4 linked regions of the Homo sapiens genome follow. The protein of the gene in region 3 interacts with the protein of the main gene of each other region in a pairwise test. Each region holds a gene or a part of one and is shown on either strand. Other genes may lie near its edges. The genes, in order: KIF9, NEK6, ZCCHC7 and ZNF250.

The links.
Region 1: the proteins of ZCCHC7 (region 3) and KIF9 interact in binary tests that used the Homo sapiens proteins (3 or more experiments, as listed by UniProt).
Region 2: the proteins of ZCCHC7 (region 3) and NEK6 interact in binary tests that used the Homo sapiens proteins (3 or more experiments, as listed by UniProt).
Region 4: the proteins of ZCCHC7 (region 3) and ZNF250 interact in binary tests that used the Homo sapiens proteins (3 or more experiments, as listed by UniProt).

What each region holds. Positions count from the first base shown.
Region 1 is NC_000003.12:47,265,788-47,272,811, reverse strand, and holds part of KIF9 (kinesin-like protein KIF9), read left to right. Parts: intron 1-1,350; coding exon 1,351-1,575; intron 1,576-5,548; coding exon 5,549-5,632; intron 5,633-5,743; coding exon 5,744-5,836; intron 5,837-6,934; coding exon 6,935-7,024. UniProt on the Homo sapiens protein: Essential for normal male fertility and for progressive motility of spermatozoa.
Region 2 is NC_000009.12:124,309,928-124,316,951, forward strand, and holds part of NEK6 (serine/threonine-protein kinase Nek6), read left to right. Parts: intron 1-2,581; coding exon 2,582-2,722; intron 2,723-3,995; coding exon 3,996-4,058; intron 4,059-7,024. UniProt on the Homo sapiens protein: Protein kinase which plays an important role in mitotic cell cycle progression. Required for chromosome segregation at metaphase-anaphase transition, robust mitotic spindle formation and cytokinesis.
Region 3 is NC_000009.12:37,115,714-37,123,585, reverse strand, and holds the start of ZCCHC7 (zinc finger CCHC domain-containing protein 7), read right to left. Parts: upstream 3,013-7,872; 5' UTR 2,963-3,012; exon of another isoform or gene 1,914-2,962; intron 1-1,913.
Region 4 is NC_000008.11:144,877,445-144,884,468, reverse strand, and holds part of ZNF250 (zinc finger protein 250), read left to right. Parts: intron 1-1,632; coding exon 1,633-2,954; 3' UTR 2,955-7,024. UniProt on the Homo sapiens protein: May be involved in transcriptional regulation.

The sequences.
Region 1 (7,024 bases), on a different chromosome or scaffold from region 3:
GCTTCAGTATCTCAGCATCTTAGACTTTAGTAATCTAGCCCAGTGCCACTAATAGAAATATACTGTAAGTCACATGCAAATTTGAGTTTTCCAGTAACCACATTTTAAAAAGTAAAAATAAACAGATGAAATTAATTTTAATGATATATTTTATTTAACTAAATATATTTAAAATATTTCCGCATGTAATCAATATAAACTTATTGAGATAGTTTACATTCTTTTTCTCATACTAAGTCTTTGAAATCCAGTACATATTTTATACTTGGGGCACATTTCAGTTTAGGCATAAATATTATCAGAAATGCTTGATCTGTATTTAGATTTCATAAAATGTTGAAAAAGTAGATTTACATACCCAAGTTGTTCCAGACATACTTAAAGTTTACCAATAACTGAATTGCATCAGTTTTTAAATCTAACTGTAATTAAAATTACATAAAATTTAAAATTCAGTTCATTTGTACTAGCCACATTTTAGATACTCAGCAGCCATCTGTAACTTGTGTCTACTATTTTGAACAAAACCGGTCTAAATTCTTAGAGGAAGGCAGGACCTCAGGAATTATCCCTTCCTTGATAAGCACTGGGGAGGGAATTAGGAGTTGAGAAGGCTGAGTTCTGGCTTTACTTCTACCCTTACTAGCTGAGTGACCAATAGACAAATTATTTATTTATTTATTTATTTATTTTTTAGATGGAGTCTCACTGTCACCCAGGCTGGAGTGCAGTGGCGTGATCTCATCTCACTGCAAGCTCTGCGTCCTGGGTTCAAGAGATTCTCCTGCCTCAGCCTCCCGAGTCGCTGGGACTACAGGCGCACGCCACCACGCCCAGCTAATTTGTGTAATTTTAGTAGAGACAGGGTTTCACCATGTTGGCCAGGATGGTCTCGATCTCCTGACCTCATGATCTGCCCACCTCCGCCTTCCAAAGTGCTGGGCTCACAGGTGTGAGCCACCACACCCGGCTGACAAATAATTTTATTTTGTAGTGCCTTCCACAAATACGTATTGCTCCTGCACTGCCTCATTCACAGAGATTTATATGTGGATGGAATTAAATAGATTTGAAAGAGGCATATAAATGATGAGACTCTAAAATAAGAAATCCTCACTCCAGAGTCCTTTCCACTCATTATGCCTCTACTTCGTGAGATGGTTTAAGTGTTAGCCAATCTGATGTCAAGCCTCAAAACACTACAAGATGATACTAAATATCACCCAATTCCTTTAGGACAATAATTATTCTATACATCTTGATGTTCCCTTCTGAGTTAGGAAGCCCCCCTTATGCTAGTTGGCTGTTGGGGTTCTGCTCTTGGTGACCGCTGTACAATCTGTCATCTAGGTTTTTAGGATGATCGAAGAACGCCCCACACATGCCATCACTGTGCGTGTTTCCTACTTGGAAATCTATAATGAGAGCCTGTTTGATCTCCTGTCCACTCTGCCCTATGTTGGACCCTCAGTCACACCAATGACCATCGTGGAAAACCCTCAAGGAGTCTTCATTAAGGGCTTGTCAGTTCACCTCACAAGTCAGGAGGAGGATGCATTCAGCCTCCTTTTTGAGGTGAGATAATAAAACCTGAGGGTTCCTTTCCTTCTCTCCCTCCCTGCCACCCTCCTTCTCAGCTTTTCTTTTTCTTTTTCTTTTTCTTTTTTTGAGACAGGATCTTGGTTTTTCTCCAAGTCTGGAGTATACTGGCATGAACATGGCTCACTGCAGCCTCGACCTCCTGGGCTCAAGTGATCCTCCTGCCTCAGCCTCCCAAGTAGCTGGGACCACAGGAGCATGCTACCATGCCCACTTAATTTTTTTTTTTTTTTTTTTGTAGAGACAAGGTCTGGCCATGTTGCCCAGGCTGGTCTTGAACTCTTGGGCTCAAGCGATCTTCCCACTTCGGCCTCTCAAAGTGCAGGGATTACAGGCAAGCTACTGTGTCCAGCTAGTTTTTTACTTACTTTGATTATCAGAATGGAAATTAATATATGCACATTTAGCAAGTTCAGATAGTGCTGAAAAAAAAAAGGAACAAAAAAGAATTTTATTTCCTCTTCCTTTCCTGTTACGTAAATAAAAAGAAAAAATGATTCATGCATAATCTGTTTTTTACATAAGGCAACAATAATGTATATTTTAGCTCATTTCCTTCCAGTCTTTTTTCCTGTGCAGCTTTTTCTTTACATAGTTGAAATGATTCTTATGTCCCTTTTTTCAGTTAAATTATGAGCTCTTGTATGGAAAAAAATAAGGCCGGGTGCAGTGGGTGATGCCTGTAATCCTAGCACTTTGGGAGGCTGAGGTGGGTGGATCACCTGAGATCAGGAGTTTGAGACCAGCCTGGCCAACATAGTGAAACCCCATCTCTACTAAAAATACAAAAAATAAGCTGGGTGTGGTGGCGGGTGCCTGTAATCCCAGCTACTAGGGAGGCTGAGGCAGGAGAATCACTTGAACCCGGGAGGCACTGGTTGCAGTGAGCCAAGATCGTACCATTGCACTCCAACCTGGGCAACAAGAGCAAAACTCCTTCTCAAAAAAAAAAAAGAAAAGAAAAAGAGAAAAATAAGAATTAGCATCCTTACTATACAAAAGCTCTTAGAGCCAGGTGCGGTGGCTCATGCCTGTAATCCCAGCACTTTGAGAGGCTGAGGTGGGTGGATCACCTGAGGTCAGGAGTTCGAGACCAGCTTAGCCAACATGGTGAAACCTCATCTCCACTAACAATACAAAAATTAGGCTGGGCACGGTGGCTCATGCCTGTAATCCCAACACTTTGGGAGGCGGAGGCAGGCGGATCACAAGATCAGGAGATTGAGACCATCCTGGCCAACATGGTGAAACCCCGTCTCTACTACAAATACAAAAATTAGCTGGATGTGGTGGCGCTAACTCCCAACTACTCAGGAGGCTTAGGCAGGAGAATAGCTTGAACCCGGGAGGCAGAGGTTGCAGTGAGCTGAGATTGTGCCACTGCACTCCAGCCTGGCGACAGAGGGAGACTCCATCTCAAAAAAAAAAAAAAAAAAAAAAAAAATTAGCTGGGAGTGGTGGTGGGCACCTGTAATCCCAGCTACTCGGGGGGCTGAGGCAGGAGAATTGCTTGAACCCAGGAGGCAGAGGCTGCAGTGAGCTGAGATTAAGCCATTGCACTCCAGCCTGGGCAATAGAGTAAGACTCCATCTCAAAAAAATAAAATAAAGGCTCTTAGAAACCAGTCAAATGCACTGGCACAGTGGCTCACGCCTGTAATTCCAGCACTTTGGGAGGCCAAGGCGGGTGGATCACTTGAGCTCATGAGTTCAAGACCAGCCTGGGCAACACAGTGAAACCCCACCTCTACCAAAAATACAAAAATTAGCCAGGCATGGGGGCGCATGCCTGTGGTCCCAGCTGCTTGGGAAGCTGAGGTGGGAGAATCACTTGAGCCCAGCAGGTAGAGGTTTCAGTAAGCTGAGATCATGCCACTGCACTCCAACCTGGGTAATAGAGCAACACTCTGTCTCAAAAACAAGAAAAGAAATCAGTCAAGTGTATGTTATTCTTTTAGAAGTCATATAGGCTAGGAACTCTTTATTTTTTTATGCAAGTTCTCGCTGTGTTGCCCAGGCAATGGGCACATGTGCAATGGCTATTCACAGGCATGATCATAGTGCCTTCTCACAACATAGCAACTTACTTCCTCAACGTCAATAGCAGGATCTTTTTTAAAGGGCCAGAAAGACAAGGCAAGGCCAGGCGCGGTGTCTCACACCTGTAATCCCAGAGCTTTGGGAGGCCGGGGCAGGCGGATCACTGGAAGTCAGGAGTTCGAGACCAGCCTGGCCAACATGGTGAAACCCCCTCTCTATTAAAAATACAAAAAAAGAAAGACAAGGCAAGAGGGTACTTCAGAAGGGGGACTGAAGAGTAAAGGTGAATGACCTGCTGTGGTGGCTCATGCCTGTAATCCCAGCACTTTGGGAGGCTAAGGCAGGAGGATTGCTTGAGCTCAGGAGTTTAAGACCAGTCTGAGCAACATGGCGAAACCCTGTCTCTACAAAAAAATATAAAAAATTAGCCTGGCATGGTGGCCTGTACCTGTGATTTTAGCTACCTGGGAGGCTGAGGTAGGAGGATCACTTGAGCCCGGGAGGCAGAAGTTGCAGTGAGCCAACATCACGCCACTGCACTTCAGCCTGGGCAACAGAGTGAGAATGATCTCAAAAAAAAAAAAAAAAAGAAGAAGAAAAATGAAGTGACCCCTTATATTCTTGGTGAGTGTCACTGGATTTGTAGAACAGGCCTGACCATAGACTATAGCCTCACTACTATAAGCTATAGAGGTATGGCCACAGGAGTCTGCTAGGCTTGCTCCACAGCCTCAGGCCTTCCCTCTTCAGCGGGTGCTCTCCTCTCCCCAGGGGGGGCTGTCCCCCACCCTCACTTTGGGGCTTGTTCATAGCACTTCTCATCAGCATTTAAGGAGACATCAGTCTATCCCTCAAGGACCTTTTTCTCCAAGAACAGCCATTTCCACCACACCACCACCCTGTCTCTACAAAAAATTCCTTTTTAAGTATATTCTGGTCATAAGGCCTCCTCCTGTAAATTAGAGGTAAGGGCCTACTGTCCCTTTAAAAATACAAATTACTAGGTCAGGCACAGTGGCTCATGCCTGTAATCCCAGCACTGTAGCAGGCCGAGGCGGGCAGATCTCTTGAACTCATAAGTTCCAGACCAGCCTGGGCACATGGTGAAACCCTGTCTCTACAAAAAATACAAAAATTAGCCAGGTGTGGTAGTGCACGCTGGTAGTCCCAGCTACTCAGGAAGCCGAGGTGGGAGGATGGCTTGGGCCCGGGAGGCAGAGGTTATAGTGAGCCGAGATCGTGCCACCACACTCTAGTATGGGTGACAGACTGAGATGCTCTCCCAAAAAAAAAAAAAAAAAGGAGAACACAAAATAAATAAAAATATAAATTATTATTTTTATAGTAATACATGCTCACTAAAAAAAACCCACAAAACTGTATAAAAAAGATAAAATAACCTATAAACCCCAACCCAGAAGCAACTATTATTAACATCTTATTAGCAGAATTCTGCTTATTTCTTCTATGAATGCTTTTGCATTTCTTAGATCAGCTATAATATGATTTTGGATTCTACATTTCTCTCTGTTATTAAAAACTATGTGTCAGCATTTTCCTGGCTGCCCAATATCCCACTGTATACATAGATCATTCCCAAATTGTTGGACATGCAGGTTGATTCTGATTCAATATTCATAAACATTTTTAAGGCTCTTGATTTTTATTGTCACTTTGCTTTCCAGAAAGCTATACCAATTCACACTTCCCCAGCGGCGGGTGAAAGTGTAGATGTGGACTCCAATTTGACTCCCTTTCTATTAGTTTATAAAAGAGGTTTGCCTGGAAGGCCCAGCTGATCGCAGTGATATGAGACCACTTGTGTAGCTATTGGTATAATTGAAAAATGACCCAAGTGCCTTGTCGTTTTAGTTTTTCGAAATGTTGCCTATGATTCCCTTCCTCTTCAGGGTGAGACCAACAGGATTATAGCCTCCCACACTATGAACAAAAACTCTTCCAGATCACACTGCATTTTCACCATCTACTTAGAGGTAGGTGCAAGCTCTTTGATCAGCCCAGGCGGGGCAGTCAATTCCCACGGGGCCTGCTCAGTCAGAAACTTCTCCCTGTGACAGTCTAACTTCTGCTTGGATGTTTTGTAGGCCCATTCCCGGACCTTATCAGAGGAAAAGTACATCACTTCCAAAATTAACTTGGTGGATCTGGCAGGCTCAGAGAGGCTGGGGAAGTCTGGGGTAAGTGATGGGGGCTGGAGGTTGCTACTCAATAAACCACAAGCCCTTTTTCTGGCACAGTGCCTGCACATCTGGGCCATGACTCATTGGATATTTGTGAACACAGTCCTGAGCTAGGCGAAGTGGGACATGTGGGCTTGCTGGAGGGACAGGATTTGCAAAAAGGGAACGGCTATTACCTGGGGGCGGTTCCTACCTCAGAGGATTTTTGTAAACATTAAATGAGATAGTGCCCTCTACATTCTTAGCAAAGTGCCTGGCACTCAGTGCTCAGTAAATATTCCTTGCTGGTATAGCATTTCTCTGTGTGTGTTTTTGTTGTTGTTGTTTTGAGACACAGTCTCGCCGTGTCTCCCAGGCTGGGGTACAGTAGCACAAATACAGCTCACTGCAGCCTTGACCTCCCAGGCTCAAGTGATCATCCCACTTCAGTGTCTCAAGTATCTGGGACCACAGGTATGCACCACCATGACCAGCTAATTTTTAAATTTTTTTGTAGAGACGGGGTCTCGCTATGTTGCCAAGGCTGAACTTGAACTCCTGGGCTCAAGCGATCCTCCTGCTTTGGCCTCCCAAAGTGCTGGGATTACAAGTGTGAGCCACCACACCTGGCTTCTTTGTGAATGAATATGAGTATTCGTATGAGTATTTGCATGAGTATTTCAAATAAATATTTGTATGAGTGTATTAGCAGAAGTATTAACAAGAGTATTCAGATGAGCATTTGTATGTGCATTCATGAGTGTTTGTGTGAATATTCACAGGATTCTTTGCTCAAATATCTAGACAAGTATTTCAGTACATATTCATATTAGTGTGAATCTTTGAGTGAATGTCCATATGAATATTCATGTAAGCATTCACATTCGCATGAGTATTCACATGAGTGTTCACATGAATATTTCTGAGTTTTGGTATTACCATTATTAGCCCAAGATGGAATACAATCGCATGACATTGAAAGAAGACCCTGGTTCTGGGAAGGAGGCGCTGACCTGACCACAGACTTATAGCATTTCTCCAGACCAGGAAGACTGCTATTCTTAGTGGGGCAGCTGCTTTATTCCATCCAAAGTGGAACTGACCTTTGCTTTGTAGTCTGAGGGCCAAGTCCTGAAGGAAGCCACCTACATCAACAAATCGCTCTCATTCCTGGAGCAGGCCATCATTGCCCTTGGGGACCAGAAG
Region 2 (7,024 bases), about 87 Mb from region 3:
GGGGACTAGACAGGGGCCCCCTTTTGAAGAGGCCGGTGGCGGGTCCTGGGGCGGGGCCTGGGGCAGGGCTCAGGTGACTGAAAGAATGGAGGCTGGAGCAGGAAGTGGCAGGCCTGGCCGGTCAGGGGGTCTTGAGTGAAAAGCCGAGGAGGGATCTGAGCTGAGAGCCCACCCGATACGGAGCAAGAGCTTGGGCACCACAGTCCCCAGTCCTGGGGTCACACCCCAGCTCTGCTGTTCTTTGCTGCCTGATCAGAACAGGTCACTGCTACCCCTCCAAGCCTCAGATTCCTGAAATGGGGACAGCAGTGAGGCCCACTCACAGGGTTGTTCTGAGGACCCAAAGAGTGGGCGCGTGGGCGGTGTCTGCACAGAGCCCAGCATGCAGTAGACACTCAGGATGCCTGCTCTTCTTAGGTGGGTGCTCTGTGTACAGGTGTATTTACCCGACAGACATTGGCACATGGTGGATAAAATCATCATCTTCCTCCTCCAGCAGCCCTCCAGATCGGGTCCTCTGGCAGGACCCACCATGAGAGGTAATTAGGCCTCGAGGCTTCAAAGTCAAGGTTGGCCCAGCCCTCACCTTGCTGTGTGCTGTGAGGCCTGGACTCCCATCACTCACTCCCGCAGGAGGGTGTTCTGTAGAGTTCCCTCAGCCAAATCTGGAAGAGACATTTTCTTTTTTTTGAGATGGAGTCTCACCGTCACCCAGGCTGGAGTGCAGTAGCACGATCTAGGCCAACTGCAACCTCCGCCTCCCAGGTTCAAGCAATTCTCCTGCCTCGGCCTCCCAAATGGCTGGGATTTACAGGCACCCACCACCACACCCGGCTAATTTTTGTGTTTTTACAAAAATTTTTTGGCCAGGCTGGTCTCAAACTCCTGACCTTAAGTGATCGCCCGCCTCGGCCTCCCACAGTGCTGGGATTACAGGCGTGAGCCACTGCGCCTGGCCTAGAAGAGACATTTTCACTTTACTTTTTTCCCTGCTTTTCCAGTGAGTTTCTATTATTCATTAAGTCATGATTCAGGGTCCCAGAGTAGGGATCACCACATAACCAGGTTCCCCTCAGGCACTCTGGGAGAAGGACAGAGGAGAAGTTGATGGACCCAGCTTAGACCTGCCCAGGAGACGTGCCCCTGCTCCGCAGGCATCTCAGGCTGAGACGCAGCTGGTCCGGCCAGCAGTTCCTGGTGTTTCCAGGTGGGGAAGCAGCTGTCAGAAGGGCCAGTCCTGTAGTTCTCGGTTTGGTCTTGATGCCTTCCGCCAGGGTGCTGGCTCCTAAAGACGCCTCGGTACGGTGCCCGGCTCAGTGTGACCCTCACCAAAGACCCACTTCATGCTAGAAAGTTGAACTGCTTGTTCTGGCTTCACTAGGGGCGGTGGCATGGAGCTGGGTGATGTGGGCATGGCTGGCCCCTCTGGGCCTCAGTTTCCTCATCAGGCAAATGGAGACACAGCCGGGCCCATCTCACCATAGGGCAGGCCAGAGATGTGGCATCCTCTCCCCTTGTCTGTCTCCTCCTTCCCTGGCCCACTGTTGGCGCCCCCTCCTGCCTTTTCCTGAGAGCTCACTGCACAGGTGTCCTGGGGTCCTCCTGGCCACTGTGGTCTCACCTGGAGGCTCCATCCCTGGGCAGGTCCTAGCGCAGGATCATGTGTTCCAATGCTGGCCCCTGCAGAGTCTTTGTGGAGCTCTGGTTTCTTCACGACACCCTAAAAAAGGCAGTTTATCTAAAGGATGGGCTCAGGGTGTAAGGCTGCACATTTTTTTGAGAGGGGGACAGAGTCTCCATCACCCAGGCTGGAGTGCAGTGGCATGATCTCTGCTCACTGCAACCTCTGCCTCCTGGGTTCAAGCGATTCTCATGCCTCAGCCTCCTGAGTAGCTGGAATTATAGGCATGGGCCACCACACCCAGCTAATTTTTATATTTTTAGTGGAGACAGGGTTTCGCCATGTTGGCCAGGCTGGTCTCGAACTCCTGACCTCTCGAACTCCCGCCTCAGCTCCCAAAATGCTGGGATTACAGGCGTGAGCCACCACACCTGGCCAAGGCTATGAATATTAACCTTGGTTTTCTTGTCTGAGATGGGGAACGGCTGCCCCAGGAAGGGAACTTGCCATTTCTTATGATGACCTGGGGCATTTTGCATGGTGGCCACGGGCTGGGGATACATGAGCTGCACCCGGCTTACCGGACCCCAGTTTGGGCATCAAGGATTCAGGAGAGGATGAGACGGGCAACGCCCGTGGTCCCACGGAGCTAGCCCCCAGGGATGGGACTCAGAGACAGCAAACAAACAAGCAGTCAGACAATGAAGGTGGTGATGAGGGCAGTGGGGAGCATGAACAGCCTCAGTTTTTCACCTGCACTGGGGGTCCTTGAGGGGACCCAGGGGACCCTGTGCAGAAAGCCCCCTGGGGGGGTGCCTGGGAGGCTCCCAGAGCAGGGTTGGCAGCAGAGTCCCTCCTTCACCTTAGAGGGTGCTGTTGGGGTGCTGGGCCTCTAGGGGTCGTCCCCAGGCCTCTGCTGCAGCCTGGCTGCTCACGGAGGCCCTCTGTCCCCCGTTCCAGAGGCATCCCAACACGCTGTCTTTTCGCTGCTCGCTGGCGGACTTCCAGATCGAAAAGAAGATAGGCCGAGGACAGTTCAGCGAGGTGTACAAGGCCACCTGCCTGCTGGACAGGAAGACAGTGGCTCTGAAGAAGGTGCAGGTGAGCTGACAACCCGTGGGGTCAAACCTGCATCTCGGGAGGTGGTCTCTGCATCTGGACGGGGTGCCCGGGCCAGTCCCTTCTCTCCCCTCTTCTGTGAACGAGGGAAACAGCACTCAACTCACTGGGTTACAGAGAGAACCAGGTGGACTCCTATTGATGAAAGTTCACTGTGAACTGCAAAGGAAAAGAAAAACGAGCATGCATTGAGCGCCTGCTGTGTACTGGGTCATGCAAGGAGCACATGGAGCCTCTCAACAGTCCCGTGGGTGGGGATTGTCATTTCATCTCTCAGATGAGGAAAATCTCATAACCGCCAGGGCCCCAGCATGAGTCTTGGGGGAGCTGAGGTTCATACCATGTCCACCCATCCTTGCGCCTGCGGTTGCTCCACAGTTCTGGGCTTCCTGCCTTCTGCGTCCCTCCTAAATGGAGGAAGTAGGTCAAGCGGCAAAGTCAGGACAGGAGCCATGTCCATGAGAGCCGCTGGGCCCGTCTGAACACAGCTTTGCCGGAGGAAATGGCTTTAAATCCTCCAGCAAAGCTTCCCAAGCCCCTTGATTTGCTTACTTGTCCTTAAAGAACAAGATTGAGAGCCTGGGCAGAGGAGGGCCGGGAGAGAGAATGGCGTTGGGGAAATGGGGAGAGAACACCCGCAGCTTCAGGGCGCTGGAGGAGTAGCAGGGTCCTCTCTGTCCAAAAAAGGACCAGTTTCTCTCTTGATCTTGTTTTTTTTTTGAGATAGAGTCTCAGTCTATCACCCAGGCTGTAGTGCAGTGGCGTGATCAGCTCACTGCAACCTCTGCCTCCCGGGTTCAAGCGATTCTCCTGCCTAGGTCTCTTGAGTAGCTGGGACTACAGGCGTGCACCACCACACCCAGCTAATTTTTATATTTTTAGTAGAGACGGGGTTTCACCATGTTGGCCAGGCTGGTCTCGAACTCCTGACCTCAAGTGATCCACCCACCTCAGCCTCGCTGGGATTACAGGTGTGAGCCACTGTGCCTGGCCCGCCCTCTCCATCTTCTGGGGAGGGGCTCACCTGGGCTCTCTGTCTTGGTTCTTTAGTGCCACGATGGGTTTTGTGGTGGGACAGTGCTGGGGGGACCCACAGTGAGCAAGCCCTACAGGGGCTGGGAGTGCAGGGGGGGGTCACAGAGTCCCTTGGTGAGGAGGTGGGAGAGCCGGGACTGGAAAGCAGACCCCGTGGCCTCCTTTGGGTCACTGGACACAGATTGTAACCACTCTATTTCTCTTTTTCCTCCCGCCCAAGATCTTTGAGATGATGGACGCCAAGGCGAGGCAGGACTGTGTCAAGGAGATCGGCCTCTTGAAGGTGAGCACCCTGGGCCGAGCGGGAGCTTTGCCTCCTCGGGGAGGTTCTGGGGCCGCGGCTGGGCCACATCATGTCCATCACAGCCCTTGGGTGCCAGGAATCCGCAGCCCCTGCTAAGTTAACAGACGATAGCTTTCTAGGGGCAGCGGCTAGTGAGTTTTCTCCTGGCCAGGCAGGAGCGGCCCGCCTCATCGCTCTGCCCAGCCCTTGGGGTCGCTGCCTACAGCCTTTCCTCCTTGCTGCACGCCCCTCCTGCTTGTACATGGCAGTACCCGGCATAGAAGTCCTTCCCCACAGGGCAGCCCTGACCCTGCCTCGCAGTGGCCTATGGACCAGGCTTGGCTAGGGGAGGAGTTCATTGTGGGGACCACATCCAGACTGCAGCCTGTCTGGCTCTGCCTCTGTCTCTATGTCTGTCTCCCTGTTTTTCTCTTTCTCATCCTCTTTCCATCTCTCCTCTCAGCCTTTTTCTTTGGTTTTGTTGGTAGTGGTGGTGGTGGTGGTGGTGGTGGGTTTTTTTTTTATTTTAGAGGCAAACTCTGTTGCCTGGACTGTAGTGCAGTGGCATGATCATAGCTCACTGCAGCCTCAAACTCCTGGGCTCAAGCAATCCTCCCGCCTCAGTCTCCCGAGTAGCTGGGACCACAGGCGCATGCCACCACACCTGATTTTTATTTTTTATTTCTTTTGTTTTTTTTTGAGACAGAGTTTTGCTCTTGTTGCCCAGGCTGGAGTGCAGTGGCACAATCTCTGCTCACTGCAATCCCCACCTTCTCGGTTCAAGCAGTTCTCCTGTCTCAGTCTCCTGGGATTACAGGCACCCACCACCACACCCAGCTAATTTTCATATTTTTAGTAGAGACAGCGTTTCACCATGTTGACCAGCCTGGTCTCAACCTCCTGACCTCAGGTGATCCATCCACCTCAGCCTCCCAAAGTGCTGGGATTACAGGCGGGAGCCACCGCACCCGGCCCCCCATGAAACATACTGGATTTGCTCGGCAGTTTCCAGCAAAGTGGGACTGCTGGTGGCAGGGCTGCCCGCCGAAGCCACAGCTGCAGAATTTCAGATTAGCAGTTTTTTCTGCCACACGCTGCCCTGTGTTCTCAGGCCTTGGCCCTGCTCTTGGGGACTTCCAGGCTGGTGGGGAAGCAGGTAGGAAGCAGATGGTGACCTTCCAGGGTGATGCAGATTGACTGGTGGGCCAGGAGCCCCAGGGAAACCCGCTTCCTGGGCAGGCCTCACAGAGGGCAGGGCACCATCCCAGAATCTGGAAGGCCGAAGTGAGCCTTCTTCCAGGCACCGCAGCACCGTGGATTATGGGAGGTTGGGGAGACAGAAGGCTGGACATGGCAGCAGAGCCAGATACACACTCAGAACAAAAGGGGAGCCCCTGAAGTGGCTGCAAGTCGGGGGGCCATGGCTGGGTGTGAGTTGTGAGTGCCTGCTCTGGTGGCCCCCGGCCACAGTGGGTGAGGGAGTCAAGGCTGGAGGCAGGAGGTGTCCTTACCACTAACTATTATAGGTCAAAAAATATCCCTCGAAAACATTGTTTAAATGTTTAAGTAATGGTCAGCTTGCTGCCACTTACCCAGCCCTGAGGAATGTTTGTCCTGATCACCCATTGCCCCCTCCCCACCTCATGTGCCCTTCTCCCCGAGTGAAGGAACCCACAGGTGAGCATGCTGAGCACAGCCTGGTCTGGTCCCTGGTCACACAGATGTGCCACCGCAGCCCCTGCCTTGCAGGAGCCTGAGCCTGGCGTAAACCCACATGGCTGCAGAGGGGATTTGGTCCCTTCTCCAGGGCTGCCATGCAGCCAAGGGCACCAAGCCGGGGTTTCAGAGGACACACCCCTCGCTCACTAGCTGTGTGGCTGCAGGCCAGCCATGGGCCTCTCAGGACCTCAGTTTCCTCATCTGTAAAGGGGGCATGATGACAACAGGGACGCTGGAGGAGTCAGTGAGGAAGCATGTCTGACGAGCTCAGGGCAGCGCTGGTGTGTGGTACGCTCGCCGCCCAAGGCAGCCCAGTTGTCATGGTTGCCACCTCTGCCCGCCAATGCCAGCCGCCTTCCCGAACACGGGTCCCACTCCACAGGTAGCCCATGGGAAGTCAACAGGATGTGCCAGGGCACGAGGTGCTTCCTACAAAACAAAAGGAAACGTGGTTTTCGGAGGGGTGACTGTTGACATATCACATCATTCATGCAAAGAACCCAAACCCAAAACCTCTCAAGTGCGGGGGCTGGTGGGGTCGGCAGCTGCCAAGCGTGGGACAAGAAGGTGGGTCCTGTTGGAACGCAGGCGTGTGTTCATTCATTCTGTGCAATTTCTGATCACCACTGAATGCTGGACACCAGGGTGCAGCCCAGTGGAGAAGACAGATCATAGACACTCTGTGTTACATCCGGGAGGGCCTGGAGCTTGGGAGCAGAGCCCCTGATGGCAGAGATTCAAAGGACAGGGACCCTTACTCTCAGCTCTCCCTCCCTTCCCTCTGGCCACCACCACAGCCAGACAAAGCCCAACCACATTGCGTCTTTGCAGCACCTTCCCTGTCCCTGACCCAAGTGTGTCCCCTTCCAGACCCACCTGGGCCCACCAAGAGGCCACAGGCTGTGAAGTGGACTCCATGTGGACCAGGTTCTAGACTCAGCTCGGCCCCTGCTTGCTGTGGACCCGTGGCTGATCCCTTCCCCTCTCTGGACCTTGGCGATTTAGCCCAATGGACGTCTGGAGCCCCTTTCTGCCTGTGCCTGTGTAGACTGCCTGGGCATTTAAGGGAGCCCTTCCTTAACCCCCTGCCCTCAGACGTGCAGGGAAATGGGGGAGGAGTCTCCCTCCTCCCCTCCCCAGGAACCAGCGCCTCCTTGATGGGGCTTTACTTCCTACCCAACCCCTCTCATTTCTCCCTTGTTGGAGAAACTGTGTCATGCCTGGACTGCTGATGACCTGGGCAGTTT
Region 3 (7,872 bases):
GATTAAGAATAGAGCCATAGGCACACCTGTGAATGTATGCCAAAAATAAACTACAGAACCATAATAAAAACTGACTTCCTTGGGTCAAAGGATTTATCTCTTTCCCTGAAATGTAGAAAAATGAATTTAACAATTTAGCCCCTATGGCCTTTAAGAGGATTTTGTACCGTCTGTACTTGAAAATTGTGCTGGGCATAACGTGCTCTCTTATTTAGGTAGTTTATGTATGCCAGGGTTAAGGTCTGCCTAAGGTTGTTTTCGTTAATGTTACTGCTTTAATTACGTTCAAATGAATTTAATTTACCCTTTTAAAAAGTGTCTTGGAAGACAATATATGTTTTTTACACACACACGCACACGCACACACACACACACACACACACACACACACACACCCTTGACTCAGAAGGCTTTCTCAGCTTTTTTATCCCTGTACATGATTCCCAAGTATACTAACTAGGTAACAAAATCAGATTATCTCATACAGACTCCTCAATCTTCCCATCAGGAAACTGAAATACAAAGAGATAGGAAGCCTATTCAAGGTTATGCAGCTGGTTAAGAACACGGCTAGAAGTGATTCACATTTCTGTGATTCTCAGCCAACTGTTTACTAAAATTTTTAAACAAATTTCTTTTTTTCCCCCTTGAGACGGAGTCTCGTTCTGTCCCCCAGGTGAGAGTGCAGTGGCGCAATCTCGGCTCACTGCAACCTCCTCCTCCTGGGTTCAAGAAATTCTCCTGCCTCCGCCTCCCAAGTAGCTGGGATTACAGGCACGCGCCACCACGCCTGGGTAATTTTTGTATTCTTAGCAGAGACGGGTTTCACCATGTTGGCCAGGCTGGTCTCGAACTCCTGACCTCGTGATCCGCCCCACTCGGACTCCCAAAGTGCCTGGATTACAGGCGTGAGCCACCGCACATGGCCCAAAATAAAATTTTCAAATAAGTTAACTTCAAATTAAGATTTTTTGAAGAAAAACCTTCCTTCATTGCAATATTTGCATTGGTTCTAACACCTAAATTTACCTCACAAATATCCATTTTATGTCCCAGCAGAGTTTAAAAACTAAATGAGACATTTTAGGTGTAAGGAAAACACACGTTTGTCAGTTTGCCATTTAAGAATCTCCCAAGTTGGTACTCAAAAACTATCAATCCCATGACCAGAAAAGATGTTTCCTATATAACATCTTAAAATATCATGCAAATGAAACTTATCTAAGAATTAAAATACCTTAACAAATATAAAACAGCTATAGAATAACTGCAAAGGCTATTACCATTCAAAAGAGGGAGCAGTATTCATTGACTGAATTGTTTTAAACTAGACAACTTAAGGCTTATTTAAGCTTTCAGCATTTACTTAACACAGTCTTTAATCAATCCTTCTGCTCTCACAGTCTACCTACTGGTCATTCTGACCTTTTGCTCTTATTTACTTCCAAATATCTTTAGCCTCCCTAGATGTTCCTTCTTGATGACACACGCATCCATCTCCGGCCGATTTAAATCAAATCCACAGCCTCATTTTCAGTCCAATTTTCATTGGAATGTGATGAATACACTTTACTTTCAAAGTAAAATTTTTCTTACTCTTAGTAAGCTGCCCTGACAGGACAGTTGAAACACAATTGTCTAAAGGGTTAAAATGTCTGTCCATTTTTCAAATGCGATGGCCACTCTGAATCAAATCTGATTGGGATGGAGAATCCAAATGTGTAAAACAAAAGTCACAAAAGACAAACAGAGCACAGTATTTCAGTGGGGGAAAAAAAATAAGCTAAATTTAGTCACTTAAGTCCCAGCTCTTCTTGGGATATATATATGATTTTTACGAGAACTAATCCTATCCGGAAACATTTCCTTCACCTTTCCCTTAGCCCTTTTCCTTCGGTCATGCAGTCTCTTACCGTGCTAATTATCATATTAATATAATCCTCACTTGCGATCCTTCCTGACTTTATTCCCCATGCTCAGATTCTCCTGAAAGCATAACGCTTTCCTAAGTATACACACAATCCATTTAAAAGTCTTTGTATGCGACAGCCTAACTATTCAAACACGAAGTCATTTCTCTAACGGTCCTAGAAAAAATTTTAAAAAGAAAAAGAAAACCACAAAGTCAAGAGCTTCTGAGGGGACCTGAAAAGTCATCAAATTGAACGCTCTCGTTTTATAGTTGGAGAAAGGAGCTCAGAGAAACTTATTCACTGAGCTAAAAAGGCCCTACTAATGCAGCCCGTAATTCAACTGTGCAATCTGAAATAATCTTAAATTCAGCTTCAATAAGAGCTTTCTGGAATCGCCAGCGAATCCGTGGGGGAGCCACGGCTAGAACCCAGGCCTCCTGATTCCCAGCCACAGCTTTTCCACCGAACCAGCAGCTCTTCCCAAAAGTTGAAGGCAACTGTCCGCTCACAGGATGGGAGGGATAAAGGGCGCCTTAGTAAACACAGTCCAAGTCTACTCGTTTTACATGAGGAAAGGGTCACAGCTCCCGAAATTTTGGATTCTACTGCTGCAGCTGCTGCTTCTGACAGCAGAGGCGGGAGGTGGCCCAGGACTACTCGGTCCTCAAAGACTGGACTCTCTCTCGGCGCGCCGGGACCTCCGCGCTTCACTGACTGGCTTCCCTAGAAGACTGGGGGCCTTGCGGGGAAATAAAAAGGGCAGACACGCCACCCTCACCGAGGCCCTAGACGCCCAGCCGCTCTAGAATCACGGCATTAGCCCTTGGAAAGCCAGGGAGACGCGGACCCCCTAGACCCGCAGCCCGGCCGCGTGGGGCGGCGCGCAGGTGACGGACCAGGAGCTGCGCCCTGCCACGAGTGAGGGGCGGACGGGAGACGTCGAGGCCGGCGAGGGGGCACGCGCTAGTTCCACAGCCCGGCGGGCAAGAAGGAGGGTAGGCAGGGGTCCCGAGCCGCGGGCGGCGGGGGTCCGTCACACACATACTCACTGCCGCAGCTGCGAACAGGAAGCACCAACCGGGAACCAAAACGCGTAGAGGGACGGGGAGGGGCGAGGACAAATGAGGTAAGGAGGCCGCGTCCGCGCAGACCCGGGAGGGAAGGCACTTCCGGGGACAACACAGCTCTAGTCACCGCCTTTCCGTCCCCGCCCACCTGCCGCGCCTGATGTGCGCATGCGTAGTGGGTGCGAACCGTTCTCTGCCCCGCCCATAATTATTAGGTTTGCCTTCCTTGCTTTCCCCCTTCCCCTTCCCAACTTCTCTTGAAGCTACCTAGGCTGCATCTATTATTTGAATGACTCGTACGAAGGAGATGCTATTTACCGGGCAAAAGCCGGGGAGTTCGTGCCCTCTACCCCCGCGAGGAAAACTACAACCCCCATGAGGACACGGGCGAGGTTGAGGCCGGGCTCCGCCTCCTTCTCCCTGGCGCTCGGTGGACGCCTTCTCAGTGCCACGTGGCGCGGGAGCCTAGCTGATCGCGTGCATGACGAGGGCCAGCGTGGCTGGCTGCTTGGCCCGCAGACCTGGGCAGCGGGAAACGCGTACTTGAGAGCGCATGGCTTCAAGCTTCTCCCTTGCGCTCATGATCTTAGGCTGGTCGCTTTTTCTTTTAGGCGGAACACAGTTCACACTGGGCGCCTCCAACTCTCTGGAATTCTAGGCAACAGATTAACACTTTGTGAATCTCGAAGAGCTGCACTCCTGCTAAATATTGGAGTTAATGCTGATCCTTTGGAAGTCTCTGAAGGTTGCAAGATTGTGCTGGGAGCCTCTGGCTTCATTTGCCCTTCTCACACCTTATTTTAATACAAGGTAAACCCATCTGTAGAACTTTAGAAATAACTGTCGACCTAAAGGAAAAACTGAGGCAAAGTTAATATAAGTGGAGAATTTATTTGGGCCAAGTTTGATGAGGGCAACCTGGGATCATCAATTCAAGTTGCCCTTAATATGTGATCCGATAAGCAGCAGTTTCAACTGAGTTCTTTGTCTTGTGAAGCTCCAGGCTTAAAGGTATCGATCCTCCCACCTCTGTCTCCCAAAGCACTGGGATCACAGGCATGAGCCATTACACTTCTTGTAGCAGCTACGAGTGAATTTTTTTCTTTCTTTATGGTTTTTTTTTTTTTTTTTTTTTTTTTTTTCCTGAGACGGAGTTTCGCAGTTGTTGCCCAGGCTGGAGTGCAATGGCGCGGTCTCGGCTCACTGCAACCTCCGCCTCCCAGATTCAAGCCATCCTCCTGCCTCAGCCTCCGAAGTAGCTGGGATTACAGGCGCCTGCCACCACGCCCAGCTAATTTTTGTATTTTTAGTAGAGTCGGGGTTTCACCATGTTGGCCAGGCTGGTCTCGAACTCCTGGCCTCGACCTGCCAAAGTGCTGGGATTAGAGGCGTGAGCCACCGCGCCCGGCCACGAGTGAATTTTTAAAGGAAAAAAGAAGAGGCTTTTGCTAAACTACATACCAAGAATTGACACTAAAATAACATAAGCTATCCATTGGCTACACATTGTTCTTTCTATCACAAATTTTAGGAACACGAAGATAAAGGGTGATGCAGGTACTGGGAAGAAAAGAACAAAATGCCTTTAAACAATTGCCACACACCCCTACCCCCCACCCCCACCCCCACCACCACCTACATGGGATGGTGCTAACTGAAGTACCATACTCAAGTCCCTCTGGGCCTGATAAAGTTTGAATGCCTGCCTGGCTAATGGGGTAGCTCTCACCTGTTTGGGAGCCCGAAGTGGGAGGATAGCTTAAGGCCGAGAATTCGAAACCAGCCGGGGTAATATAGCAAGACGCTGTCTCTACAAAAAAATTTAAAAATTTAAAAATTAACTGGGCGACTGGGCGCAGTGGCTCACGCCTGTAATCCCAGCACTTTGGGAGGCCGAGGCGGGCGGATCACCTGAGGTCAGGAGTTGGAGACCAGCCTGACCAACATGGCGAAACCCCGTCTCTAGTAAAAATACAAAATTAGCCGGGCGTGATGGCGCATGCCTGTAATCCTAGCCACTCCTGAGGTTAAGGCAGGAGAATCGCTTTAACCCGGCAGGCGGAGGTTGCAGTGAGCCGAGATTGCGCCATTGCACTCCACCCTGGGCAGCAAGAGAGAAACTCCGTGTCAAAAAAATAATAATAATAACAGGGCGTGGTGGCCCACACCTGGAGTCCCAGCTGTTCCTGGCTGAGGTTTGAACTGCGGAGGTCTAGGCTGCAGTGAGCCGAGATCGCACCATTGCACTCCAGAATGAGACCGTCTGAACAAAAATGTTTAAAGCTCAAGCAAGGTGCCTCATGGCTGTAATCCCAGCACTTTGGGAGGTTGAGGCAGGTGGATCGCTTGAGCTCAGGAGTTGGAGACCAGCCTGGGCAACATAAGAAGACCCCATCTATATTTAAAATAAGATCCTTTTCTTAATTAAAAAATTATATAAAAATAAATTTAAAAAAACAAATCTTTTTATAAAAATAAAAATAAATAAGAAATTTTAAATAGTAAAAATTAGCCAGGCGTGGTGGCACACAACTGTATTCCTAGCTACTAAGGAGGCCAAGGTGAGAAGATTGCTTGAGCCTGAGAGTTCAAGGTCATAGTGAGCTGTGATCACACCACTGCACTCCAGCCTGGATGAGAGACCCCATATCTTTAATTTTTAAAAAAATTATTTTTGCATACCTTTAACGTAACTTAGACTGCTCTGAACTATTTTTCTCCTCTCATAATGACACACTGCCAATTCATTGGCCTATTTCAATTCTCCTCAAGACAAGTGTGAGTTTGATTGTTTTCACCAACGTTTATTGAACATCTATCTGTTAAAAGACGGTGTTAGAAAGTGCAGAAAAGCTGTAAATTTTTAAGTCACTGATCTCATAGAGATAGGCATCTAGCTAGGAAAACAGTTATAGTCTAGGAGTTTGGCCAGAAAAGAATTAGAACATTTAATTAACATTATGGGGTAAGTGCTGGGAAGGAGAAGGACAAGGTACTATGAAAAGGTAAAATTGGAGAACCACTTTCCAGAAAAGAAAACAGGCATAGAAGCACATCACAGATGACTAGATTGTTTGTTTTGGTAATATGTATTGTGTAAAACAAATGTCACCTTTTTAAAAATTTAAAAATATATTGCCAGGATTACTCCTGTCCATCTATTATAATATTTTAAATTTCGACAACACTTTGTGGATTTTTTTTTTTTTTTTGAGAAAGGGTCTTGCTCTGTCACCCAGGCTGGAGTGCAGTGGTGTAATCACAGCTCACTGAAACCTATCTCCCAAATGATGCTCCCGCATTAACCTCCCAAGTAGCTGGGACTAAAGGCACACACCACCATGCTGAGTTAATTATTTTTTTAATTTTTAAAACTTTTTTGTAGAGATAGGGTCTCCCCGTATTGCCCAGGCTGGTCTCCAGCTTCTGGGCTCCAGGCCTCAAGTGATCCCCCCACCTCAGCCTCCCAAAGTCCTAGGATTACAGGCATGAGACACTCAGCCCCACCAATACTTTCAAGTTGATGTTTTAAGTTCCAATTTCACACACACAAAAAAAGAAAAGAGGCGTAGAAAGGCTAAGTAAAACTTATAGAAGGCCACAAGTATAGGAAATAATAGTTATGTGCTTCATAATGACATTCCACTCAAAACCAGACTGCATATATGATGATTATTTTATCATATTTTTACTGTACCTCTTCCATGTTTAGATGCACAAATACTTATTGTGTTATAGTCACCTACAGTATTCAGTACAGTAACATGTAGCAGTTTGTAATCTGGGAGCAATAGGCTACATCATGTGGCCTAGGTGTTTACTTGACTATACCATCTAGGTTTGTGTAAATATGCTCGATGAAGTTTGCACAATGAAAAAATCACCTAACAATGCACTTCTCAAAACTTATCCCCATCATTAAATGACACGACTGTACTCCTAATTACCATGTCCCATCTTCCCACTGTCACACATGCATTCAACAAAGATTTACTGCTTTCCCATGCTCAGAATGCTTCAGCCTACCCCTTTAGTTTATGTCTTCAAACCTAGAGTCCTTTGGATGGCATAAAAGGCACTTCATGAGCTGACATCTGCCTACTGTTGACGCTGAATCCTGGGCAGTTGCCAGAACACACCATGCCCTCCCACACCTGTGCCTTTGCAGAGAACACTCCACTGCCTGTAAAGCCCTTCTCCCTGTCCTTCTAACATATACCCACTCACCCTACTCTGCTGAAGTTTTGGGTCTTCAGGGAAACTTTCCACCTTAGCCTCTCTCCACATACACAGCATTTCTCTTTCTAATTGAAGCTGTCTCTACTCCCCATTTCTCCTTTTTATTTTATTTTATTTTTTTTTTGACGCAGGGTCTCACTCTGTCACTCAGGCTGGAGTGCAGTGGTGTAAACACAGCTCACTGGAGCCTCAACCTCCTGGGCTCAAGAGATCCTCCCACCTGAGCCTCCCAAGAAGCTGGGACTACAGGCGTGCATCACCACACTGCACCTGGCTAATTTAAAACTATATACATTTTGTAGAGATGGGATCTCGCCATGTTGACCAGGCTGGTCTTGAACTGTCTCAAGCAGTCCTCCCGCCTCAGTGTGAACCACAGTGCTCAGCCCCTACTTCTTGAAATCATGGGTGACAGCATGCACAAATATCCTGAAGTCTTTCTTACAGAGTATCTTCTAAAGAGACCAACGTTTATTTTATTTATTTATTTATTTATTTATTTATTTATTTATTTGAGATGGAGTCTCACTCTATCACCCAGGCTGGAGAGCAGTGGCGCGATCTCGGCTCACTGCAAACTCCTCCGCCTCCCGGGTTCACGCCATTCTCCTGCCTCAGCCTCCTGAGTAGCTAGGACTACAGGCACCCGCCAC
Region 4 (7,024 bases), on a different chromosome or scaffold from region 3:
CATCCTGGCCAACATGGTGAAACCCTGTCTCTACTGAAGATACAAAAAAATTAGCCAGCCATGGTGGCATGTGCCTGTAATCCCAGCCACTGGGGAGGCTGAGGCAGGAGAATCACTTCAACCCGGGAGGCAGAGGTTGCAGTGAGCCGAGCTCGTCCCATTGCACTCCAGCCTGGGCGACAGGGTAAGACTCCGTCTCTAAAAAAAGAATTATGTTCATAAACAGAATAGACATAAATAAACTATGGTATTTTAACTTAATGGAATATACTGCAGTGAAAATGATTAACTGCTGTACAACAACATGATGGATCTCAAAAACATAATGCTGACGGGAAAACGAGTTCCAGAAGACTGTGCTCCATGAAACTATAGAAAGCTCAGAAACACGCATAACTAAGTAAAATAAAATATAATAATGTTTAGAGCCAGGCACAATGGCTCATGCCTGTACTCCCAGCACTTTGGGAGGCAAAGGCGGGAGGATCATATGAGCCCCAAGCAGCTTGAGGCTGCAGTGGGCTATGATAGTAGCCACTGTACTCCAGCTTGGGTGACAGAGACTCCATCTAAAAAAAAAATCACTGTTGTCCTCAGCACCTCTTACCTCCCACCCACTCACACACAATCAGCCTGCAGAGCGCTCGACCTGCTCCCAGAAGAGTCTCCACCCCTGCCTTTCCCGCCATCTATGCTTCTGCTCCTGAAGGCCTCATCTGTGGCCTAAACTTGGCAGCAGATTCCCATCATGCCCCTCTGCACCTTCAGTCTTGTCCTTCCCTCCCCTCCTCCTGCCACTGCATTCTCCACATGAAATTATCTTCCACATGGCCAGGTCCGATGGTTCACGCCTGTAATCCCAGCACTTTGGGAGGCCGAGGTGGGTGAATCACTTGAAGTCAAGAGTTCAAGACCAGTCTGGCCGACACGATAAAACCCCATCTCTACTAAAAATACAAAAATTAGCCAGGCATGATGGTGTGCGTCTGTAATCCCAGTTACTCAGGAGGCTGAGACACGAGAATCGCTTGACCCCAGGAGGTGGGGGTTGCAGTGAACCGAGATTGTGCCACTGCACTCCAGCCTGGATAACAGAGCAAGGCTCCTTCTCAAAAAAAAAAAAAAAGAAATTATTTTCCACAAAGAGGTGGCAGCACCACCACCCCTACCTCATGTACAAGTCTGTTGGCCTCCAGATGGCACACCCCGACTTGCTCACAATAGCTCACACCTCTCCCTGCCTGCCCAAGTGCTGCTGTCTGCCCCACAAGGCACCCACATTATGTGGGCCTGTATTTCAGCTCTGTCCACATGAGGACCCCTGGGAGGGCAGGACTCAGGCACCACTGGGCTGTTTCCCTGCTGTTCTGTGGACTCCACACAGGGGTGTGACCTCAAACTGGAGTTTACACCTTTCTCTTAAAGCTTGCCTTGGCACCTTCCTGTCTGGAAACATTATCTTCTGATATCTAGTTGTTTGACACAGTTATGGTGGTTCTGTTCTTCTGTAGCTCACACCAACGTGTGCATTGAGGGATTTTGCACCTTCATCAGCAAGGCCAGTTTCAGGGTTGCACTAGCTCTTCAGTTTTGAGTAGTGTTAACATTTTCATTTTGGATTTGTTCTTTCAGAATGTGAAACCAAGGGAGAGAGTCAAAATACAGACTTGAGTCCGAAGCCATTAATTTCAGAGCAAACAGTGATTCTGGGGAAAACACCCTTGGGGAGGATTGATCAAGAAAATAATGAAACAAAGCAAAGCTTCTGTCTGAGTCCAAACTCTGTTGACCACCGTGAAGTTCAGGTCTTAAGCCAAAGCATGCCACTCACTCCGCACCAGGCAGTGCCTAGTGGAGAGAGGCCCTACATGTGTGTTGAGTGTGGGAAGTGCTTTGGCCGGAGTTCCCACCTCCTTCAGCATCAGCGTATCCACACTGGAGAGAAGCCCTATGTGTGCAGTGTATGTGGGAAGGCCTTCAGCCAGAGCTCAGTCCTTAGTAAACACAGGAGAATTCACACAGGTGAGAAGCCCTATGAGTGTAATGAGTGTGGAAAAGCCTTTAGAGTGAGCTCAGATCTTGCTCAGCATCACAAGATACATACAGGAGAGAAGCCTCACGAATGTCTTGAGTGTCGGAAAGCCTTCACTCAACTCTCACATCTCATTCAGCACCAGCGGATCCACACGGGAGAAAGGCCATATGTGTGTCCGTTGTGTGGGAAAGCCTTCAACCATAGCACTGTTCTGCGGAGCCACCAGAGGGTACACACTGGGGAGAAGCCTCACAGGTGCAATGAGTGTGGGAAAACCTTCAGTGTGAAGAGGACACTGCTGCAGCACCAGAGGATCCACACCGGGGAGAAGCCCTACACGTGCAGCGAGTGTGGGAAGGCCTTCAGCGACCGCTCAGTCCTCATTCAGCACCACAACGTGCACACCGGGGAGAAGCCCTATGAGTGCAGTGAGTGTGGGAAGACCTTCAGCCACCGCTCCACACTGATGAATCACGAGCGGATCCACACCGAGGAAAAGCCCTATGCATGCTACGAATGTGGGAAGGCCTTCGTTCAGCACTCACACCTGATCCAGCACCAGAGAGTCCACACTGGGGAGAAGCCCTATGTGTGTGGTGAATGTGGGCACGCCTTCAGTGCACGCCGGTCTCTGATCCAGCATGAGAGAATCCACACAGGTGAAAAGCCCTTCCAGTGCACAGAATGTGGCAAAGCCTTCAGCCTGAAAGCAACTCTGATTGTGCACCTGAGGACCCACACGGGCGAGAAGCCATATGAGTGCAATAGCTGCGGGAAGGCCTTCAGCCAGTACTCAGTGCTCATCCAGCACCAGCGGATCCACACAGGCGAGAAGCCCTATGAGTGCGGGGAGTGTGGGCGTGCCTTCAACCAGCATGGCCACCTAATCCAGCACCAGAAAGTGCACAGAAAGTTGTGACCCATGGCTGACACAAGAATCCATTCTCACAGAAACTGCATGTGGAACCACAAGCAGCCTTCAGCCCAAGAGAAGTCTCTGTTAACTCTATAGGAAGCTTTTCTTTGGCGATTCAGTGTCACAAAATAACTCCAGAAAGAAGCACTTAGCGTGCTGTTCCTGTGGAAAAACTTCAGAGACTACCTGTTTTATTTTCCTCAACATCTTGAAGTTATGTTGGAGAGTAATCATACAATTGTAGAGAATTTTGGTAAAAAACAGCCATAATTCTTTAACATTAGTTTATTTGAACTAAGGGAATTTAAGGCATAAGAACCATTATCCCAATAAAATCTTACATTCCAAATAAAGTTCTTTTTCTAAGAACATTACATGCCCTTCCTAAATATCAATTAACCATACTAATTATTGCACTTAAAATTTGAAAGTCGGACTATTTTCAGTATTCTCTTAAAAGACTAAAGTATTGTATGGATAAAGTGATATAAAAAGATATTTTCATCAAGCATCATGTAAAATGGTTGGAAATCCTAAGTGTGTGGATTTCCATCCTAAGTGTGTGGAGTCCTGTTTTGTATGAAACAAGGAAAAAGCTTATATATTAGTGAGAAATTACATAAATTTAAAAAACTTTTTGTATGTGTGTGTGGAGATAGTCTTGCTCTGTTGCCCAAGCTGCAGTGCAGTGGCATGATCTTGGCTCACTGCAGTCTCCGCCCCCACCCCAGGTTCAAGCTTTTCTTGTGCCTCAGTCTCCCAAGTAACTAGGATTATAGATATGCGCCACCACACCTGGCTAATTTTTGTATTTTTAGTAGAGACGGAGTTTCACCGTGTTGGCCAGGCTGGTCTCGAACTCCTGGCCTCAAGTGATCCTCCCACCTTTGCTTCCGAAAGTGTTGGGATTACAGGCGTGAGGCACCATGCCTGGCCTAGAAAACCCTTTATCTGGAGCTTTTAACTTTATTCAAGATCAGAAAGGTTATGCTAACTTTTTAGTAAAAATTCAACTCAAAAATGGGTATTTTCCTCAAAACTTGCCCTTATGACCTGCAGATCCTGTGCCCCAGAAACCGTGAGATGTCTCAATTCCCATGCAGGCAAAGGAGGGGAGCTTCACACTCAGCAGACCTCATAGCTGTTACACCAAGTGGGTACCTCTTTACATCTTATGGTATTTCCCCCAAAACAATGCTGAAAATACTGTTCTTTGGTAGATATATTTAAAACATACATTTCTCAAATTCAGATAGCTCTTTTTTACTATCTCTAGTATTTCTATTCCTATATTTGAAGGGGTTTTTTTTTTCATTTTTTTACTCCTGGTTCAAGAGTCCAGTATCCATTGCCATATTACTATGATGAAGATGAATCTAGTTTATTCATAATTAAAAATTTGTATTCAGAATTATTTGTTCTGTTTTAAGCATACTTTTTTTTTTTTTTTTGAGACAAAGTCTTGCTCTTGTTCCCCAGGCTGAAGTGCAATGGCACAATCTCAGCTCACTGCAATCTCCACCTCCCAGGTTCAAGCAATTCTCCTGCCTCTGCCTCCCAAGTAGCTGGAATTACAGGCACCTGCTACCACGCCCGACTAATTTTCGTATTTTTAGTAGAGATGAGGTTTCACCATGTTGGCCAGGCTGGTCTCAAACTCCTGACCTCAGGTGATCCGCCCGCCTCGGCCTCCCAAAGTGCTGGGATTACAGGCGTGTGCCACCGCACCCGGCCAAGGATACAGTTCTTGAAACCGAATCAGAACCATTTCTAGTAGCAGCCAGCTGCAAACGAAACAAATGTATGAGGTTCAAGCCACTTGAAATTCTCAACATGTTAAGTGCCTGAGATAGAGAAGGGCTGTCTTCACCCCAGGCCCCCGCCCCCAACATCTGTCAGTTTGGTGGGGAGGAAATAGTCACCAGGATATTGATCCTTTTTGTTTGTTTTAAAGACGGTCTTGCTCTGTCACCAGGTTGGAGTGCAGTGGTGCCATCATGGCTCACCGCTGCCTCAAACTCCTGGGCTGAAGCAGTCCTCCCACCTCACCTTCCCAAAAGGTTAGGATTACAGGCATGAGCTGCTGTGCCCATCCAGGCATTGATCCTTAAGTCCACAGCAAAACACCACGATGTAGACAAAAGCTTGTTCCCCCTTCTATGTACAGACACTGACAACAGTGAATTATTAACTCCAGAGAGGAACTGGTAACTGATTGGTTAACTTGAGAAAGGAGCTGACATCACTGGTGTTTTACTTCAGAGCAACTGAAACCACTGAAGTGAAATTCCAGAGGAACTAATATTACTGAGGTGTTACTTCAGAGGGACTGAGATCACTGAAGTGAAACCTCAGATAGCTCAGATAACCAAGGTGTTAACCTTAGAGGTGTTGCCATTCTGTGAGGTGTTGTTTCAGATAGATAAAATAACTAAGGTGTTAGTTCAGAGAAGACAAGAGCTTAACTGTTTCTTTGGAGAAGAGCTGAGATCACTGAGGCGTCACTTCAGAAAGAAAGTGAGACAATTTTTGTTACTTCAGAGGATCTGAGTACACTGAGGTGTTTCATCAGAGAGGAGGTGAGATCACTGGGTGTTACTTCTGAAAGGAATTGACATCACTAGTGGGTACTGCAGAGTAGCTCTGACCACTGAGGTTTACTTCAGAGGAGCTGAAATAACGGAAATGGGATCACTAAGGTATTACTTTAGAGATTAGATCATTGAGGTAATTCTTCAGAGAAGCTGAGATCACAGAGGTGTTTCTTCAGAGAAGTTGAAATCACTAATGTGAAACTCTAGAAGAATGGAGGTCACTGAGTGCTATTTCATAAAGGAAGTGAAATCACTATATTGTACCATCGGAAAGATGAGAATGCTGAGATGTTACTTAGGAGCTGAGATCACTGAGGTTCTGCTTCAGAGAAAAGCTGATACCAATGAGATGTTACTTAAGGGAGGAGCTGAGGTTACTGAGGTATTATTCAGGACCAAGATGGTGTCCCTCAGGTGTTAGAAGCTGAGATCACAGAGATGTTACTTAAGAGAGGCTGAGACTGCTGATGTGATTCTTCAGAAAGGAAATGAGATCACTAAGCTGTTAACTTTAGAAAGGAGATGAAATAACTGAGTTGTTCACTGGAGTTGAGATCACACAGGTGTTAACTTCAGAGGTGGCTGAAATCACTAAGGTGATTCTTCAGAGAAAGGTTGAGATCACTAGGGGTGATGCTTTAGAAAGAGGTTACTTTAGGGAAAAGCTATGATCACTGAGAAGTTACTTCAGAATGGAGCTGAGATCACTGAGGTAACAGTCCAAAGAGGAACTGAGATTACTGAGGTGTTACTTCAGAGCCAAGAGATCACCCAGGTACCTAGATGAGATCACTGAGATGAAAGTCCAGAAACCTGAGGTCACCTCAATATTAATTGAGAGAAAATGAGAACACTGTGGTGCTATCTTAAATCTTCTATGAAAGGAAGCTGCCAACCTGTGTTAGCTGAGTCCACAGCTGGCATGTGACTCAGTGGCAGCTGCTCAGTGCCCACTACTATTCAGGCCCCAATTTCTAATCATTAAAGACAAAGTCATATTCCAATTAAGATGAGAATAATTAAATTCAATATACAGGAACATTTGTTTAGAAAGACTGTGTATCACAGGACAACGTAAGTTACACAGTACAAGTTATTCTGGATTCCAATAACCTAGGGTTTTCAGGGAAATCCTTCCAAAAAGTATAGTTTTTTTCCTGCATTCTTAAAATGAGCTTAATATCATTCTGCCTGTTCTTGCTATGTCAGGCTGCCATTGATCCACTGGTGAGAATGCAGGCTCAGGTGTCCACGGAGCCAGGAAGTGGGCTTCAATGCCCTTCTTTCTGAGGAGGATTCCCAGGCTACATTTTCTTGCCACTCACCTCCTCCTCTCCAAGGAGAAAGAGGTGGCACATGACCTACTGGAACATGTGGGCTATCTACCTTTTTGGGATATAACATCAAAGGCCAGGGCCCTGAATTTTCATGCTGATAACAGTCTTCTCAACCATTATCTTCTGCCTGATTTGTCAGCAG